2 separate regions of the Homo sapiens genome follow, and region 1 is linked to region 2. The links come from fine-mapping of genetic effects on gene expression. A gene starts in region 2. The other region holds a variant in brackets. All regions are shown on one strand. Distances are between the middles of the regions.

Evidence for each region. PIP is the estimated chance that this variant, and not a neighbour inherited with it, causes the effect. A credible set is the group of variants that fine-mapping cannot tell apart.
Region 1: its variant is the best candidate, but not a certain one, in a credible set for the expression of GDNF in fibroblasts (GTEx, PIP 0.58).

Annotation. Positions count from the first base shown.
Region 1 is chr5:37,778,215-37,783,588 of GRCh38, reverse strand. No RefSeq gene overlaps it. Among named protein-coding and RNA genes, the nearest start is that of GDNF-AS1, 59 kb to the left of the region's middle. The variant G/A (reference allele first, on the strand shown) is at 2,735.
Region 2 is chr5:37,837,302-37,842,675 of GRCh38, reverse strand. GDNF (glial cell derived neurotrophic factor) reads left to right here and starts at 2,635. Exons shown (of 3, transcript NM_000514.4): 1 at 2,635-3,169. It overlaps GDNF-AS1 (GDNF antisense RNA 1), which reads right to left and starts at 2,792. Exons shown (of 4, transcript NR_145476.1): 1 at 2,638-2,792. RefSeq lists enhancers at 2,774-3,711, 5,169-5,238.

The sequences.
Region 1 (5,374 bases), 59 kb after region 2:
AAAGAATGTTGCGTGGTAAATTCTTCTCCTGAAATAAATCAACTGGCTGTTTAAATAAAGAAATGTCTGTAAAAAGTCTGAAAGTTGAAGCAGGTCAAAGAATTGTCTGTGAAAGCCGTGAAAGAGAAAAAAAAAGTTATAAAAAAGGAATTTATGCAAGAAATGTTGTATAATTTAAAAGTAACTAGGCCTCCTGAATGTAAAACTATTAAAAAAACCGTTTATGTGCAAGGTGTATAAGGAAAGTAAAATATACCTTTGGTAAAAGGATTATAAGGAGGCATAAGACTGTAAATTTTTACCTACACTAAAAGGTTAAATATATATATATATATTGTTTTGAAGGTTTAAGCAAGTTTTAAAATGTTATTTGTAAAGAAAATTCTGTGTATAAACATATTAGCTAAAGTTAAAGGGGTGTCAACCAGTTTTTCTGTGAACTGGACATTAAAGTAAAAACACAACGGGTTTTTCTTAAAGCACTAACCTACTCTTTAACAAAAATTATAAAAGGTTAAAAAGAGTCTATGAAAATCTTATGGTCCAATATTAAAAATTGGATAAATATGTCTACAAGGTTTTATTAAAATTAAGTTTAACATTAATAACACACTAATATAAAGGTGAAATTTAGCTTATCTGGTATAAAAATTATACAAGAAGCATTATTAAATATAAAATGGTGTTTGGCTTTCTTTGGTCTAAAAACTAATAAAAATAGGTGCTAAAGGAAATTTCTCAGTAAGAAGGCACCAAAGAGTATAAAGTCCACTGTTGATGTCCCCACATTTAAAACAAAAAGTCAATTTCTTAGAAATTACATACTTGGTTTATCTTCCACTTTCCTTTCCCTCAAAACTAAAAGTCTTTTAGCACAGGTACCACCCCTAGAATTTCCAGTAAACCAGCACCAGCCTGAAGATCACCTTCTTATCAAAGGGTGGAAAGAAGAAAAACTCAAGCCAGCCTAGGAAGGACCCTACCTTGTGCTGCTAACCACTGAGACTGCCATTCGTACAGTGGAAAAAGGATGGACTCATCACACCTGAGTCAAAGCGCCACCCCCTCCAGAGTCATGGGCCATAGTCCCAGGTGAAAACCCTACCAAACTAAAGCTAAGAAAAATTTAACTCTTTCATCTATTCTATTACTCTTTCTTCTTTCCTTGCTCTATTGCTGACCATCTAGTTATTAACATAACCAAGTCAATTTTGCCTCAAACTATTGCATTTAATGCTTGCCTTGTTATACCCTGTGAGGACTTGCTAAGTCAAAGACAGATCTCTATGTCAGAAAATTACCTCCATCCCTCCTGACTCTCCTCATACTGGGCATTAGTAAATTAGCACCATTTAATCCAGGGAGATTTCAATAAAGACTCCAGTGTTAACCAGGATTCTTGCCCCCCAGTGTAGAGCTTTTATGCCATAGTTGGTCCAACGTTCTGCATACCACTAAAGAGCAAGGATGGACTGCCCCAACCATTTTTTGTAATTTCCTAAAATCATACATTCATTTTACTAGAGGATCATAAAAGTTAAAGTCTTAAAACAAACTTTAGCAATTAAGACAGGATACCAAGATGCAAATGCCTGGTTAAAATGGATCAAATATTCCATCTGCACATTAAACAAAAGCAATTGTTATGCTTGTGCACATGGCAGGCCAGAGGCCCAGACTGTCCCCTTTCCACTAAGGTGGTCCTCCAATTGACCAGGCGTGGGCTGCATGGTAGCTCTTTTCCAGGATTCTACAGCCTGGAGTAATAAGTCGTGCCAAGCTCTCTCTACTATATACCAAAGTCCGGCACCCTGCAGGTCAGCCCCCGAGGGCCATCCAGCTTCCGTCTCCCAACACTAAGTTCACTTCATATCTCTCACGACTGGGAGGAAACTTAGTGTTCATTGGAGACCTGAAGGGATGCAATGAGCTTAAGAATTTTCAAGAGCTTATCAATCAGTCAGCCCTTGTTCATCCCTGCGCGGATGTGTGGTGGTATTGTGGTGGACCTTTACTGGGCACTCTGCCAAATAACTGGAGTGGCACTTGTACTTTAGTCCAATTGGCTATCCCTTTCACCCTGGCATTTTATCTACCAGAAAGAGGAAAAATAAGACATTGTAAATAGAGAGAAGTCCCTTATGGGTCTTTCGACTCTCACATTTATTTAGACGCAGTTGGAGTCCCATGGGGAATACCAGATCAATTTAAAGCTTGAAATCAAATAGCTGCAGGATTTAAGTCAATATTTTGGTGTGTGACAGTTAATAAAAATGTTAATTGGATAAACTACATCTATTGCAACCAACAGCAATGAGCTTTTCATAAGTTAAAAGAAAACCTCATGTCGGCCTCGGCCCTTGGGCCACCTGACCTCACAAAACCCTTTACACTTTACGTGTCAGAAAGAAAAAAAAAAATGGCAGTTGGAGTTTTAACCCAGACTGTGAGGTCCTGGCCAAGGCCAGTGGCCTATCTCTCAAAACAACTAGATGGGGTTTCCAAAGCCTGGCCCCCATGTCTAAGGGCCCTGGCAGCAATGGCCCTGTTAGCACAAGAAGCAGATAAACTAACCCTTGGGAAAAACCTGAATATAAAGGCTCCCCATGCTGTGGTAACTTTGATGAATACCAAAGGACATCATTGGCTAACAAATGCTAGATTAACCAAGTACCAAAGCTTGCTATGTGAAAATCCCCGCATAACCAATGAAGTCTGCAACACCCTAAACCCC[G/A]CCACCTTGCTCCTGGTATCAGAGAGCCCAGTTGAACGTAACTGTGTAGAGGTATTGGACTCAGTAGAGGTATTGGACTCAGTTTATTCTAGTGGGGCCAACCTCCAAGACCATCCTTGAACATCAGTAGACTAGGAGCTGTATGTGGATGTGAGCAGCTTTGCCAACCCCTGCAAAGTGACTCTGAAAGAGACAACAAGCCCTGCTCCAGTCACACCCAGAAGCTGACTGGTCCACGCTCAGCCAAAGCATGAGAAAACTCATCACAGGATTCATTTTATAAAATTTGAACTTGTACAGTAAGGACTTCAACTGACCTTCCTCAGACTGAGGACAGTTCCCAGTGTATACGTCAAGTCACTGAGGTAGGACAAAAAGTTGCTACAGTCCTATTACTTTATGGTTATTATAAGTGTACCGGGACTCTAAAAAGAACTTGTTTATATAATGCTATTCTATACAAGGTATGTAGCCCAGGACATGACCAACCTGATGTGTGTTATGACCCATCTGAGCCTCCCATGACCACAGTTTTTGAAACAAGATTAAGGACTGAGGACTGGTGGGGGCTCATAAACTATATGAGTAAAGTGTTAGCCAAAACAAAATAAAAAGCGGTGCCCAAACAAGTCGTTTTGAAGTTTGATGCCTATGCTGTCATTAATAATAATAAGTTAGGAATAGGATGTGGTTCTGTTAATTAGGAAAGAGGCTATATGGCAGAAAATAAGTACATTTGTCATGAATTAGGACTGTGTGGAAATAAATATGGATACTGGTCTTGTGTCATTTAGCTACTTGGATAAAAAAATGAAAAGGATCCTGTCCACCTTCAGAAAGGGAAAAGTGGCCCTTCCTGTACCAGTGGTCAGTGTAATCCCTTAGAACTAGTAATAACCAACTCCCTTGATCCTCACTGGAAAAAAAGGGGAGCTTGTAACCCTAGGAATTGATAGGGCCGGACTGGATCCTCAAGTAAATATTGTGGTTTGAGGAGAAGTTTATAAACGCTCTCCTGAGCCAGTATTTCAAACCTTCTATGATGAACTGAATGTACCAGTACTAGAAATTCCAGGAAAAACAAGAAATTTGTTTTTGCAATTAGCTGAGCATGTAGCCCAGTCTCTCAATGTCACTTCATGTTATGTATGTGGAGGAACTGTACTGGGAGATCAATGGCCATGGGAAGCCCGAGAATTAATACCTACAGACCCAGTTCCTGATAAATTCCCGATTCAAAAGAATCACCCTGATAACTTCTAGGTCCTAAAAGCCTTAATTGTTAGACAATACTGTATAGCAAGAGTGGGGGAGGACTTCACCCTTCCTATGGGAAGACTCAGCTGCCTTGAGCAAAAACTGTATAATAGTACTACAAAAACAGCCACCTAGTGGAGTTCAAACCATACTAAGAAAAATCCATTTAGTAAATTCCCAAAGTTGCAAACCGCGTAGACCAACCTGGAGTCCCACCGGGACTGGACAGCCCCCACTGGACTATACTGTATATGTGGGCATAGACCTTATGCCAAATTACCCGACCAGTGGGCAGATAGTTTTGTTATTGGCACTATTAAACCATCTTTCTTCCTACTGCCCATAAAGACAGGCGAACTCCTGGGCTTCCCGCAAAAAGAGAAGCATAGCTATAGGAAATTGGAAAGATGATGAATGGTCCCCTGAGAGAATCATACAATATTATAGGCCTGGTACATGGGCACAAAACAGCTTGTGGGGATACTGGACCCCCATTTACATGCTCAACCAAATCATACGGTTACAAGCTGTCTTAGAAATAATCACTAATAAGACCGGCAGAGCCTTGACTATTCTGGCCTGGCAAGAAACTCAGATGAGAAATGCTATCTATCAAAATAGATTGGCTCTCGACTACTTGCTAGCAGCTGAAGGAGGGGGTCTGTAGAAAATTTAACCTTACTAATTGCTGTCTACACATAGATGATCAAGGGCAAGTAGTTGAAGACATAGTTGGAAATATGACAAAACTGGCACATAAATTTGTTATGTGCCAAATGTGCAAGTGTGCCATGGATTTGATCCTAGGACCATGTTTGGAAAATGGTTCCCAGTGCCAAAAGATTTAAAACTCTTATAATAGGAGTCATAATAGCAATAGAAACCTGCTTACTGCTCCCTTGTTTGCTACCTGTACTTCTTCAAATGATAAAAAGCTTCATCACTACCTTAGTTCACCAAAATGCTTCAGCACACATGTACTATATGAATCACTATCGATATGTCTTGCAAGAAGACATGGGTAGTGAGAATGAAAGTGAGAACTCCCACTATTGAGTGAGATTCTCAAAGGAGGGGAATAAGAGAGGAGACCACCCCTCATATTGTCTTATGCCCGATTTCTGCCTTCAAAGAAAGAAGTAAAAACTAAAAGGCAGAAATGAAATCCAGAGGCAGACAGCCCGGTGCCACACCCCAGGCCTGGTTAAAGATCGACCCCTGACCTAACCAATTATGTTATCTATAGATTCCAGACATTGTATGGAAAAGCATTGTGAAAATCCCTGTCCTGTTCTGTTCCGTTCTGATTACCGGTGCATGCAGACCCCAGTCGTGTACCCGCTGCTTGCTCAATTGATCACAACCCTCTCACATGGACCCCCT
Region 2 (5,374 bases):
CATATCTCCCTCTCTGTAGTGGTAGTTTCTGAAGGGCTGGGAGAGGACTGTCAAAACCCAAAGTGCCTACCATTAACCCACCTCCTTCTGAGGGACCATCCTCTGTGGAGGGAATGTGGGGAGGAACTCTAGGAAGTATCTCAAGCAAAGGTGGCCAGGCTGTGTACTCTGTGATGCCAACAACCTGGACATGAATGATTGGCCCAGGATAGGCACCTGCCCCCAGGTCTGCGGATATACAGGGTGTTTTGCAACCTGTAAGGAGACTGATACAAAGGCTCAGTCCAACTCTCACCCCTGGTGAATCCCTAGCAGGACAAACTAGATCCTTTCACTAAAGGAGTTTAAATGTGAGATCAACTGAGAGCTGAGCAGTTGGTAGCAGGAGCAGAAGCCAAAGGACACCCAGGGGAAAACAGCGAGAGAGGAGCTGAATCACCTTGGCGGCTAAGCCGTTAGTGGGGATCGGCAGATGCCTGCTGCTGAGGGGGCAGCGAGATAACCCAGTCACAGAGCTGTATCCTGAATGACCTTCCAGTTCCTGAACTTCAATCCAGTTTTCATGAGGCCTGGCTGGGTGGCCTTTCCGGAAGGCTTTTCGGAGACACGTGGCGGAATGGTGGAGATTCCGGTCAGCCTTCCTTCCACAGTAAATTCCCATTACTGAGGGTAAACCTCAGTGGTATCTGTTCCTTGCAACCCCCGCCCCCCGCCCAAAAAAAAAGCCCAATCAGCACAATGCCCAGGGCCTAGCACTTTGCCTGGCACACAGCAAGTGCTAGATATTTGCAGGTGCTTGGACGGGCTGATCATCCCCAGCAAAAAGCCCTCTAAAAATAAAGAAATCATTCAGAGTAAGAACATTGATGAGGGTCGTCTTCAAATTCCAAAAACAATGCTAAACGGCAATAAATATATTAAGCTTATTCTGCCCTCTAATTTCTGAATCTAACTACATTTCTACCATAAATCTATCAAAGAGGGAAATGTCATTTTCTGCAGAACTCCAGAGAGCATCCTAATTTCAGCTAAGGTATGTTTTGATGACTCGATTTTCACTTCGCTTAATCTTAAATCACAGCAACGTTAGTAAGAACAATTTTCCTCCCACACTCGCTTCACTGACAAACCTGCAAAGTAGCTGATCTTTGACTTTTAAGAAGTTTAATAATACATGATCTTCCCCCCACACTGCCACACGCATTTCCCCTGCCTATTGTCTGTATCAGCTACTTGAAGAACACATACTCCCCAACAACCGGATGAGTCATAAAATAAGAGGTACATGGACGTAAACTGAGCCTGTTTACACTTTCCCTGGCCCCAGCTAATAAAATAAAAGAGGTCCCACTGAATTCAGGTCCAATGGCTTCCGGAAAACAGGTTTCTGCTTAGCAAAGACATGCCCTATTTAGTACATTATTTTAGAGGTACAGCCAATTCCATGCCCCATGTGAATGAAATGTATTTATGGTTATAGCCATGCACAGGGTGTGTAAGGACTTGCCCTCCTCCTGTCCTCTACAAAAGAAGGCTCAGGCAGCTTCTGGTGGTGAACTAACCAACAAAAGGAATGCCCAGAAGGTCTCACCTCTCCCATCCACAGAGCTCTGGAATGGGGGCCGGGCCCCTGATCGCTGGAAACTCAGCATCCAAGTGGGCGCTTGCTGAAGTTTCCCATCTGCATTTTCGAAAATCTGGATAAAAGCAGGTTTAGCTCAACCTCCCCTAACCCGTTCCTGATAAAGTGATCTTACGCCTCTGGAATTGGGATTTTGAATGTATGTGCCTGCCCCATGTCTGGTATTAGATTACAACAGCATGAAAATGGAGCCTAGGACTGAGGAGCCGGCCAGCCTCAGAAGCCTTCTTCATTGCCTGCCATGTAATACATGATATGCAAAGCCTCTGACTTCAGCCAGCAGATATTTGGAGACCGTGTTGGCCTTAGCATGGGGACTAAACTAATGTGTGTTTAGGTCAGAAAGCGAATCAGAAAAGCCACTGGAGGGCACGTCACGGAGTGAGAGCCCTATAAATTCATCCCCACTCGCAGCGTCCCCTGGCAAATACTCGGCTTCCCTCACCCGGCCGCTCCGCACCTCTCCTTCTCGGTGCTAGAACTCCGGCCGGCAGCTCCTTTTCTCGCCACTGCCTCCTGCCCTGCGGAGAAGCGAGAGGGCGAGACACCCGAGCGGGAAGGCCGGCCTTCGACAGGCGCGAGGAAAGCCCGGCGCTGCCCTGCACCGGCAGAGCGCCACCCTCCCAGTGCGGCGCGCGGGGGCAAAGCCCGGCGCGGGCGCCGCGGTCAAGTTCGGATTGCCCCTTTCGGCTGGCCCGCGCAGAGCGCCGCACATTCCTCTCGATTTTTGATCCACCCGGAGAGGAGAAGGCGCTAGCCCCGCGGCGTCTCCGCGCTCTCAGCGCTCTCCCTGCAGCCCAGGGAGGGGCGCCTCGCGTCGCCCACTCGCACCCCGGCCCCCCGCCTCGGGAACTCCAGGGCCTCCTCGCTGCTCTCCTCTCCTCCCCCACCGCCAGGCCCAGCCGACGCCTCCCGACCCCTCCCTCCCGGGGCCCCGCGCCTCCCCTCCCCCACCCCGGACCCCGGACCCCCAGCCCGGGCTCTAGAAGACCAGCCTGCGCTCCTGGCGCCCTCATGTCTTCACGGGACTCCCCGCGCCGGTTGACGTGGTGTCTCGTTCGGATCTCCAGGCAAGACCTCAGCTCCGGCAGCAGCATCAGACAAACCAGTCTCGTGCTCCCAGGCAGTGCGCCCAGAGGAGGCGCAGAGCGCGGCAGCTGCCGCTGAGCCGCCCGCAGCGCCCCGGGCCCGCGCAGCCCCAGCCAAGAGCGCGACGCGCGCAGCCCTGTCAGCCCCCCACCCAAAGCAGCGGCGGCTGCTCGGACCTCGGCTTCTGGGGGTGCGGGGGCCCGGCGGGAGAGTTGCCGGCAGCCCTCGCCCTGTTGGCGGCGGCGGCGGCGGGAGTCTTGGCCGCCGCCTCCAGCGCGCCCTTGCTGCCCCGCGCGACCCCAGGATTGCGAACTCTTGCCCCTGACCTGTTGGGCGGGGCTCCGCGCTCCAGCCATCAGCCCGGATGGGTCTCCTGGCTGGGACTTGGGGCACCTGGAGTTAATGTCCAACCTAGGGTCTGCGGAGACCCGATCCGAGGTAAGTGAGGGAGCGGGCCGGGGAGCAGGGAGCGGGTGGTGCCTGCGTCGCGGGTGGGTGCGGCCGGCTGAAGGGCGCCCTAGTCAGAGGGGTGCGTCTGGACCCCAGAGCAAACGGTGAGAGTAGAAAGTGGAAAGACTAGAGGGAACCTAAGCTATGCGAGGAGAGAGAAAAGTAGAACCGGAGAGAGGCCGGCCTTTCGGAGGGGCATGTTGCCTTTTCCACGTGGGCAAAGATCTGTGGAGCCCCAGATGCGCCTGGACCCGGAATGCCCAAGAGGGGCAGTTTCCTTCCCCGACTCGGCCAGGTGCTCTTCCGTCAAGTCACAGAACGATTCAGGGCTTGGGTCATCTTCGAACCCACCGCCGTCGAAATGTGTCCTCTCTGGACGTGCAGAGATACTATCATTGCCAAGAGTGCAACTTACTATTGAGCTTGTTTTGATCTGTGCCAAGGAAAAGCGCAGGCCGGGGGAGGGGCTGCTGCAAAGGTGCTGAGAACCTAAAAATGGAGGGCTCACCTCCTCCGGGCGAGGTCTGGCAAAGCTACATTCCTCACCCGGTTGCCTGCACGTTCCTAACGCCCTCCACCCCAACTAACCATCCCCGTCGAGGTTAGGAGAGGGGCTTTCTTGCCAGTCCTGGATTCAAATCTCTGTCTCGAACGTATTCTTGAGACTCCACTAGGCCATTGAGGTTATTATTTTAATGACCCCTTTTTCTCCTGTACTCTGTGCCGCCTTCCAAAAACACCCCACCACCACTGCCACTACTTTACACCACCTCGAGGCTAATTCCGCACTGGTGGTTTGTTTCCTGCCCCAACGAAGAAAAACGAACCCTCTTCGGGCTGGAAACGGACTTTCGCGGGTTCCCGCCAGCTTCCTGGGGCCCAGCTAGTTTCGGCTTTGGTAGAATCCGCCGCCAGGACCCATGTGCGCGCCCCCGGGGGGCTTACCCATCCCAGAGCTCGCGACCCTTCTGCTCATAGGCGGGGACAAAGGCAACTCTTCCGGCCCCTGCTGCGGAGATGTTAGAACGCGCTCGACTCTTGCTCAGTGTTTGGAATATATGCTTAGGTATTTCAAGGAAGAGATGTTTCTTCCAACCTCATTCACGCACCCAGTCCCGCAAAGCCGTCAAAGCCGGCCTCGACCAAACTCGTACTGTTTCGCTGCGCCTTCGCTTTGTCAGGGAAGGTGGCGCCTTTTCAACAAGTAACAAGTGTCCGATCTCTGGGAAGTCCGCCGTGTCCCTAGCCCTTTCCCGCTAGCAATTCGGGTGCTCTCGGGCCTGGAACCTGGCCCTTTAAACAGACCGCTTTCCCAGTTTGCCTGCGAGAAGTGTCCCAAATTCTTTTTCCTTCCCTCATCTTGGGCCCCGCAGTTATGGGGGGTTGAGGGGAGAATAAGTCCTCTGTCAGTCAAGGACACGAAGCATAGTTAAGAAAAGCAATAGATCTTCCAGCAATTTCTGTCTCTACCTCCCCCCGCCAAAAAAAAAAAAAAAAAAACCGAGTTTATAGCAAACCCGTCTCCCCGCCCCACCGCCTCCTTTTTCTCTCTCTGAGACCTGGATCTTGAAGGCAAAGCCCAAACAAACCTCCCAGCCTGCCAGGCACAAGAAGGTGCGGGGGCACTGACGGCGGGAGCGCTGCCTCCTGCGAATCTGTCACGGTGACGCGTGGAAGGGGTGAGGGATGGTCTGAAAGCAGGTTGCCAAGAAACCCGCTCAGGTGAAGTGGGGAGAGGAAAACCAGCGAGAATGGAGGGGTGGGAGCCTGAAAAGCAGAGATGCCAGTAAGGACCTCCACAGGTTCCCGGGCTAATGGGATTTCGGGAGGCTCGTAGAGGGAGTGGTGGTTCTCCGGTTTTATAACTAAAATGATAACACAGCCTCCGGGCCGCGTGGGCGCGACACGGCTCAGACGGTTTCTGGTGCCCCCTGCTGCCGGGAACTCAGAAGTGCCTCGCGGCGAGCGGCTGCTTCTGCGAGCACTTCTGTGGCTTTCCTGGGCGTCCTTGCCTCCCCAGGCCTGGGGACCCACAGGTGCCGGCGCCCACGGCCTGCTGCTTTTGCCCTGCCGGGACGTGGTGGTCCCGGACCCAGAAGGGGACCAGCTTGCCAGGCACGAGAAATGGTGCGCGGTCACCTGGCAGAGCAGAGCCCCCGTCACTTGAGGAGCAGAGCTTGGTTCTCGCACGTG